Linked DNA regions of Homo sapiens. The protein of the gene in region 1 purifies or fractionates together with the protein of each later gene. This does not show direct contact. Each region holds a gene or a part of one and is shown in the gene's direction. Other genes may lie near its edges.

Region 1 (5,733 bases):
AGATCCAGGGGCGTCGACCACGAGCCCGAAAGGGAGAGGCTTGGGCCTGGGATGGAGATGGGGAGGCAGATAAGTGTGCTGGGGGTCTGGGTTGAGGAGAAGAATGTCAGCTGGAATCTGGGCGGGGGTGCCAGCTGCGGGGAGGGAGCACACAAGATGGGCAGTTCTAGTTGGGGGAGGCTCGATGCCCTCCAGTCGCCACAGACCTATTTGCGCAGTGTTGGGGGAGGGAAGAAGACATGGGAAGGGGCGGAGGAAGGAGAGAGGAAGGGAGAAAGGGAGGGAGGAGAAAAAGAGGAAGGGGGGGTACATCAGCCAGAAAATAGATATTAGCTCAGACCACCCGCCTTTTCTCTGTCTGTCCGCACGGTGGGCAGAGCGCACAGCACCGGCACTGCAGCAGCCCGGGCCAGGGAGGGAACCAGCATCACAGCCAGCGCCGCCTGCCCTGGGTATAGGACTGAGGCCCAGGCCCCAGCGCTGGGATTGCCTGGGCGGAGGAATCTTGGGGAAAGGGGCAGCCTCCTGCCCTCGGTTCTGGGATTTGGGTTTGGGAAGAGACGGTTTACCTTTGAAAAGCGTCTGCTCACTCGGAGGTGGGATCCCAGGCCTTGCCTGGACCCATGGGCTAGGAGAGGGTCGCGGCAGGCTGGGAGGAGAGTGAGGCCTTGGGGGAGTGGATGGGGTGCCCCACGAAGAGTCTGCCTCAGAGCCAGGTGACACAGAGGGGCTCCAGGAGGGAGTCAGGCTCCGCTGAGAGCCCTTAGAGAGACAACCTATCTTGGGGGAGGGGCTGAAGTGACCATGCAGACCCAAGGGTACCAGAAGAGCCTCGGGGAAACGCGGCGTGGATTCGCAGGCCTTGGCGGGGCTCCGAAGCAGTGAAGGGTCTAGGTATAAGGCGGACACCCAGGCTAGGCCTGAAAGCAGAGGGGTGAGGAGGACGAAGGTGCGAGTGTGTGGGGGTTGTCTCTTGTGGGGAGCCAGCGGGAAGCCAAGCACCCTAAGAGTAGGACTCCAGATCCTTTTGTTCACCAGACTCCCCAGATTCTAGGGAGGCTGGGGACCACGGGCTGAGCCCCCTCCTGGCTTCAGTGCTGAAGGAGAAGGCAGAGAGGCAACGGGGAGAGAGACAGAGACAGTGACACACAGCTTAGAGGAAAGGAGGGGAGAGGATGAGAGGACAGAGAGAGAGAGGAGAAGGGAGACAGGAAAGCAAGAGGAAGGAAGAAGGAAAGCGGAAAAGAAGAGGAAGGAGAGAAGTGAAGACAGGAGAGAGAAGGGAGAAGACTGAAGAGAAACGAGGCAAGGAGAAAGAGAGACAAGAACAGAGAGGGAAACCAGAGAGAAGGGAAGAGAGCCGGGTGGGCACGAAGGCCCCGGCCTGGGTGAGTGCCTAGGTGGTGAATGGCCTGGGTTTTTCCGAGGCCAGCACTCGCACCCTTGGGGTCAGAACCGGAAAGAGCCAAGTCACTCCACTCTGAACGCGCTGGGCAGAAAAATATGTAAATCAGGGCTCCCTGCGCCCTGGAGAGTGGCGAAATTACTCCCGCCCGGTGAACAAGAAGCAACAAGCTCCCAGGCGGGTGAGCTGCAGAGGGTGGCAGAGTCGCGGGGGAGGGAGCGGCTGCAGTAAGGGGGGTGGGGTTCGGAACCTCACACCCTCACACCTAGTTCCTAGCTTCTAGGGAGCCTGGAGCCGGGGCTTCCCCCCCTCTGCTCGCTGCTTCTCTCCCTTCCCCCTTCCTCCCCCTCTTCCCCCTCCTTCCTCCTCCCCGCCGGCCTCGGTCCGCGTACTTAAAGCGGCGCGGGAGGGCGGACGCGGGCGGGCGGCCCGTTCGGGCGGTGGCAGATGCGCCCAGCGGTGACAGCGGCCAGCGGCGCGCAGGTGACCGGCCTGAGGCGCAGCCTGGTCAGGGAGCGCCCGGGGAGAGCTGGCGGCAGAGGGCAGCCGATCCGCCCCCAGCGCGCGCGTCTCGGCGCCAGGAGCCGTCCCGGGGCGTGTTGGCGAGCGTTGATATAGATATAAGGACATTTCTCTTCATGGCGTCACGTGACATAATTACCACCAGAATCAATCAAGATGAATTGCACGTCAGCGCCCGGTGGGGATTTTTGCTTAGTTGATCCTGGCCCAAGCCTCTTGTGCAATCGATGGCTCAGGTTGGCTGCGCGGGGAGCGGCCAGAGGCTCGCTGGCGCGCACGCCGCGGAGTCATGAACGACTTTGACGAGTGCGGCCAGAGCGCAGCCAGCATGTACCTGCCGGGCTGCGCCTACTATGTGGCCCCGTCTGACTTCGCTAGCAAGCCTTCGTTCCTTTCCCAACCGTCGTCCTGCCAGATGACTTTCCCCTACTCTTCCAACCTGGCTCCGCACGTCCAGCCCGTGCGCGAAGTGGCCTTCCGCGACTACGGCCTGGAGCGCGCCAAGTGGCCGTACCGCGGCGGCGGCGGCGGCGGCAGCGCGGGGGGCGGCAGCAGCGGGGGCGGCCCCGGCGGGGGCGGCGGCGGCGCGGGGGGCTACGCTCCCTACTACGCGGCGGCGGCGGCGGCGGCTGCGGCGGCCGCGGCGGCCGAGGAGGCGGCCATGCAACGCGAGCTTCTCCCGCCCGCGGGCCGCCGGCCGGACGTGCTCTTCAAGGCGCCTGAGCCGGTGTGCGCTGCGCCGGGGCCGCCGCACGGCCCCGCGGGCGCCGCCTCCAACTTCTACAGCGCGGTGGGCCGCAATGGCATCTTGCCACAGGGCTTCGACCAGTTCTACGAGGCAGCGCCCGGGCCCCCGTTCGCCGGGCCGCAGCCCCCGCCGCCACCCGCGCCGCCACAGCCCGAGGGCGCAGCCGACAAGGGCGACCCCAGGACCGGGGCTGGTGGCGGCGGGGGCAGTCCCTGCACCAAGGCGACCCCTGGCTCGGAGCCCAAGGGGGCAGCAGAAGGCAGCGGTGGCGACGGCGAGGGCCCCCCGGGAGAGGCGGGGGCCGAGAAGAGCAGCAGCGCAGGTAGGCACCGGGTACTGGGCAAGCGGTGGGCCCGGGGGCCGCGGGGGAGGGGGGGGGGGCGGAGGCCTCCCTCTGCTTGCGCCTTTTTATGTGCTACTTTATAAGCATTCGAAGAGGTTTATACATCCTATAAGATTTCCTGGGCCGTTGTAAAGTGTGTTTATGGTAGGAAACCAATTTAGGTGGGCTTAAGGTAGACTTCGAGGAGGACATTAATAGCTGTCGAGAGCCTTTTCCCAGTTTTGGGCAGGGGGTTGCTAGATACCATGGAGGGAGGGAGGGAGGGAGATTTCAAGCCAGTGTGAGTGCATACACCGGAGCCTCCTGCTTTTAAGGGAGAGAGGCGGGGGGTGGGGAAGTGGGGGGAGTTTGATCCTTGCACTGGACTTTATCCAAGCCGCTAGCTGACGCGCGCCGCTGGAGTCAAGCAGATGCCCCGGCGGGCCTGCTCTTGTCTCTGTTCCCTCAGGTTCCAGTTTAGAGCCTGCCTTGCCCTCTGCTTCCCCACCTCCGTGCCAGGCTCTGTGTGTGTGTGTGTGTGTGTGTGTGTGTGTGTGTGTGTCCGGGCGTGAACACATGTCCACGCCCGCACTCTCTCCTGTGCCCGCCCATATATCATCCCCCACGACGCAGGCAGGGCCTTTCGGCCGCGGCAGAGAACGTCCCCAACGGGGCCAGGGCCTGGCCCTCGCTCAGTGGCCCGGGCGGGCGGGCGGGTGGGGGCTGTCAGGCAGCGGCCTCTCTCACCCCCTGGTCTCTTTGCCTTGCAGTTGCCCCCCAGCGGTCCCGGAAAAAGCGCTGTCCCTATACCAAGTACCAGATCCGCGAACTGGAACGCGAGTTTTTCTTTAACGTGTACATAAACAAAGAGAAAAGACTTCAACTCTCTCGGATGCTCAACCTCACTGACCGGCAAGTCAAAATCTGGTTCCAGAATCGCAGGATGAAAGAAAAGAAACTGAACAGAGACCGTCTGCAGTATTTCACTGGAAACCCCTTATTTTGAGAGCTCCAGGAAGCGCCCTCACCCCAGCCCCACTCACCCACCCTCCTTCCCACCAGCCTGCTCTCCGCAGGCCCACTGTCCTTGGGTTTAATGACGTCTCTTCTCTGTGGAACTTCACGATTCCTTCCCACGGTCAACTCGGGACCTCCCAGCGACCACTGCAGCCTGCGGACGAGGCCGGGACTTGGCCGAGCGGATCCTAATAAGGGGAAAATGGTAAATGCAAACGTCCCGTTACAATTTTACCGCCAGTGTGCTGTCGTTCCCCCTCCCCCTCTCCGAGTCCTCGTGGGGACACGGCGGGGTCTGTAGGAAGTTGGGCCGGGTTGGGGGTTGCTAGAAGGCGCTGGTGTTTTGCTCTGAGTTTTAAGAGATCCCTTCCTTCCTCTTCGGTGAATGCAGGTTATTTAAACTTTGGGAAATGTACTTTTAGTCTGTCATATCAAGGCATGAGTCACTGTCTTTTTTTGTGTGAATAAATGGTTTCTAGTAAAATGGAGGTTACAGCTTCAATACACTGTATGAATTCTCCTCTTTGAGGTTTAGTGCCTCCTTAGGATATTTTAGTGGCCAGAACCCATGCAACTGAAAATCGAATGAAATACTTTTTAGTCCCACTAAAATAGTAGTCGTACCCTCCCACCACCTCTAGGTTACACTGGTTTTAAAAATCATGTTAGTGATGAATTTCTGAATTGACGATGTGACCAAGCAATGCTGGCGCTGCCTTCTCCAGGCAGTAAGGCTGGGGCAGCAGGAACCTAAGAAGAAAACTCCCACCCCCACCACTAGTCTAGTGAACTTGGGATTTCTGAAAAGACAGCAACCATTTTTAAAAACTGGTTAGAAAATCCAAATGATCTCTTACAAGCTAACAAGGAGTCACAGTCCCTTAAAAAAGAAGAAACCAAAATTAGAAACTTCCATTGAAGGGAGAAGTTTTCGAAAAGGAAGTCATCAGTAGGTGGAGAGGGCTTGCTGGTGTCATAAGTGGACCTGGAGTAGGGAAGGTAAACCCTCCCCGCCCCCACTGAAATAGGGCCAGGAGCTGCAGACCCTCTCACGGCATTTATCGCTTCAAGTTAAAGAATGTGGTGAGGGCTCTACTGCACTTTATGTTGCAGGGCCAGGCCAGGCTGTTTACAAAACCTTGAACTGTCTAGACAACACCATAAAAGCCAAAGTTCTAAACAGCTTAATTGGGTTATATTATACACCTTCTGGTGGGCCCAAAAGAGATTTCCGCAATGTGCAATAAACTGGAGAAGTGAGAAAAGCTCTCTCTCTGAAAAGAGTGAAGTGAATCTTATGAGTCTTAACCTCTCCTAAGCCCAAAGACAAAATATAAATCTATAAATGCACAGTACCCCATGCATCTTCCAAGGAGTCATGCACTTCAAAATGCAATTAAAAAAATTGCTAAGCCTTATTTGGGAAGGAAAAAATAAGTGCATAAATGTATGCCTTTGAACTTCCAAAATGTCAAGGTCATCACCTTTAACCTTTCTGAATAATTAGGCGCCTTAAGTTCTTCTTGATTTTCAGCTGCCACCCACTCTCACACATACATGCTCACACATATAGAGAGCCACACACACATTTATGACCACACAAAATCATACCAGGAGCTCACCATAAATCTAAGAAAATTCCTAATTTCAGGATCAATAACCTTAATTTCCCTGCAAACGTTTGTGTAATGCAATAGCAGTCAACTTCTTTTTAAAAAT
Region 2 (3,500 bases), on another chromosome or scaffold:
GAAATAAACATGTATTAAAGTTCTACCCTCTGTACAGGGGCACCTCAGGTCATGTTGTGGAGTAGGAAAAAGGAATAAATTGAGTGAAGGACTTTAGTACCTCTAAGAACTCATGTACTGGCCAGGTGCAGTGGCTCATGCCTGTAATCCCAGCACTTTGGGAGGCCAAGGTGGGCGGATCACTTCAAGTCAGGAGTTAGACACCATCCTGACCAACATGGAGAAACCCCATCTCTACAAAACATACAAAATTAGCCAGGCATGGTGGTGCATGCCTGTAATCCCAGCTACCCGGGAGGCTGAGGCAGGAGAATCGCTTGGACCTGGGAGGCAGAGGTTGTGGTGAGCCGAGATTTGCCATTGCACTCCAACCTGGGCAATAAGAGTGAAACTCCGTCAAAACAAAAAAAAAAAAAAAAAGAGGAATACAGGTAGAGGCACATAAGGATTCATATCATTCAGATAATTTAGGTAGGAGGACTCCCCAGTCATTGCGTCTCTCCCCTCTTCTCCAACTTTCAGAATCTAAGATCAGCAGAAGCAGCAGGCTGTGCAGCTCCAATACTACTCCCGTGACCCCTGCCCTCCCTGGGCCCCCGAGGTCACTCTCCCTTAACGCTTATCTCTTGTTCCTACTAGTTTTTCGTCTGCCTACACACAGAGGACACCTACCCTTCCTGTCTACTTCTGTTGCTCTGCTCCTTTCTGATTCATTGCTTCTGCTTCCCACCCGTACTGCAAAGCTTAGCCATTTAAGGAAGCCAGACTCCCCAGAACACTGCTTAAGTGCTTACAGTTATATTAAATAGAAAAATAAAAGAATCAATGAAGATGCTCAAAGAGGAACGTGTACTTTGCACATATCATAGTGGACTTGTCCTAGGAGAATCAGAACTCTAGCCGAACTCATGTAATCCTTAAAGCTCGTGCTGTGATTATTGATTAAAAGAGAACAGCTGAGACCTTTGACACTTCAGAGGCCAGTGGTCTGTGCAGTCAGTCTGGCTTCTCTAACAGGGAAAGGCATGTAAGGAAAAGGAAATGAGACAGCCTGGGACACAAGTTCAAGTATGAACAATACTATCACATGTTCCATAGTGCCTATCAAACAAGTGTATGTCGTCATATTAGTCGCCTCCTTAGCCTCTGGCCCTCCCATAATACTCAAAGCCATCTGGCTATCTGCTCTTATTTGCAAGTAATCAGGAAAAGTAAAGTAAGAGGGTTGATAATATGAGCTTTGTGAACCCCAACTATCTCCATGTGCTTCAGCTCTGACCAGGAGAGAGCAACGTGGGAGGTGAGGTCTATTCGAAGTTGCCAGACTTGACCAGTTAACAGTGCAACGGTTTGAAGAACAATGACTCTAGCCCTTTAGAGGTTAAAGGCTATTGGGTAGATGTGTAGGCGTCTGCTCAGATCACATTCATAATAAACTTGCAATTCCATGACTCCATTATGCTGTATGATTTGACCCAAGGCATCAGAATCAAAGAGACCCATCAGATGCCTGAGGCAGAGATCAAAACAGGCAAAGTAGAAAAAGGACTCTCTAAGAAATGAGTTATCATCATCAGAGCTCCTGGTTCTATATCCAGTTGATGCCAGGCTTTCCTTGCAAATGGGTAGTGAGAGGACAACTACAACAATGTAGACTCACCCACAACCCCTTCTGCTGCTCACCACCCAGCATCCATCTGTGAGGTTTCTGAGCAGTGAGCCATTTGAGGTTTTAAATTTCATTTTACGTACAATTTTATCACTGAGATTTTTTTTTCTAAAATAAAGAAGCATTTAATTTTTTTCTCTCTTCAGCTGTTAGCACATTTAAGTTAGTTCCTGCTTTTTTTGTTTAGGTGGTTTTTGTTCATGATGATTTTTCTTCTCTTGCTCATTGGGATATAAGTGGAATATATAATTTTTTTTTAATGTTAGGATTTGTTGTTGTGCAGAGAAAAAAGGTAAAGGTCAAATGATCAAAGGCATTTGTTGATGACCCAGAAGAACGTTCAGATTTAAGCATTATTACAAGAGATCGTCTAATGCTAAGCGTAATTTTACTTGACATGTGGCAATTAATGTGTCAAGCAAAATGCTGCTTACCATTACTAGTCATTACTTTATTGTGGAAAGACAGCAGTCCCTTGGTATCCGCATGGGATTTGTTCCAGAACCACCGCACCACATATCAAAATCCACGCATACTTACATCCCACATTTGGCTCTGCAGAACTTCCCTCTAGGAAAAGTTGGTCCTCCTCATCCTCAGGTTTTTGGATCCGGTGAACACGGTATTTTCAATACTCACTTGGTTGTGGATGCAGAACCCACAGATACCAAGGGCCAACTGTACTTATCGAAAAATATCCACATGTAAGTGGACCCACACAGTTCAAATTTGTGTTTCTCAAGGATTAGCTATATTTATTGCGTGCTTGAAAACCAAGCAGGTAGGATGGTATTGTAGACAAAGCACAGGCTCACTTTTTTTTTGTTGCTATTTTTATGATCTTCACTTAGTATAAGAGTTTCTGTCAAAAACTGCAGCCTCCAGTACCAGTAGCAAAGCATTTCTAAAAGGTTTTGACTAAGGTACTTAATCAGTGCATGGCCCGATGCACTACATGTATGAATTTCATCTTTACTACATTAGATTTCTACCAATTGTATATAAATAGCCTAGTATGCTTAGTTAGGACAATATGTTTAATATTGGGGATGATCCTAAGAAATTATAGATTTCTCAATATGGTATTCTAATTAAAACCTAATTAGCAATTCACTGTGCTAGAACTTGGATTTTTTTCACATAGAAATAATTTCACTACGCATAGAAAGTAAAGATGTATTTTTTGGAGACATTAGAATTTCAAAAATATAAGGCAGCACATGTGGAATGTAGAGGTGTTAAAAATCTTAAGTGTGGGTTTCTCTATAGCTCTAAGCTTGAACAGTTTTGTATAATCAGCGAGCTTGCCAAACAGTATCAAAAAACTCATTTTCTTCAAGTGCTTTATTTATCTTTAATAGAACCTTCATCACCCTGGTGTTGTAAATTTGGAGTGTATGTTTGAGACGCCTGAAAGAGTGTTTGTTGTTATGGAAAAACTCCATGGAGACATGCTGGAAATGATCTTGTCAAGTGAAAAGGGCAGGTTGCCAGAGCACATAACGAAGTTTTTAATTACTCAGGTAAGAAATCAATTAGAGACGGAAAAAATACAATATTTAATATCAAATGTTATCACTGTTTAACTACAGCTTTCTAGCCTTGTTGTTTAGTCCCTACCTCCAGTCTAAACTACACTAGAAAAGGTTGTAGTGGCTTTATTGTATTATGTGATTTATATCTATATTAATCAGAGTCCACAGTGTACCAAATTAGTAACATGTTTGCAGGTCCATGTATTCAAACTTTTCATGAAATTTTAAAATGTACATTGGTTTAGTTTTGGTTCTTTGAGAATATTTAAGAATGGGTGTCCCTGTTAGATATAGGT

Evidence for each region. Proteins that work in one complex are often made in the same cells at the same time.
Region 2: the proteins of HOXD11 (region 1) and PRKD1 purify together in Homo sapiens (affinity purification with mass spectrometry; one large-scale study listed by BioGRID and IntAct). This does not show direct contact.

Annotation. Positions count from the first base shown.
Region 1 is NC_000002.12:176,105,140-176,110,872, forward strand, and holds HOXD11 (homeobox protein Hox-D11), read left to right. Parts: upstream 1-2,140; 5' UTR 2,141-2,216; coding exon 2,217-2,997; intron 2,998-3,767; coding exon 3,768-4,003; 3' UTR 4,004-4,615; downstream 4,616-5,733. UniProt on the Homo sapiens protein: Sequence-specific transcription factor which is part of a developmental regulatory system that provides cells with specific positional identities on the anterior-posterior axis.
Region 2 is NC_000014.9:29,599,348-29,602,847, reverse strand, and holds part of PRKD1 (serine/threonine-protein kinase D1), read left to right. Parts: intron 1-3,030; coding exon 3,031-3,192; intron 3,193-3,500.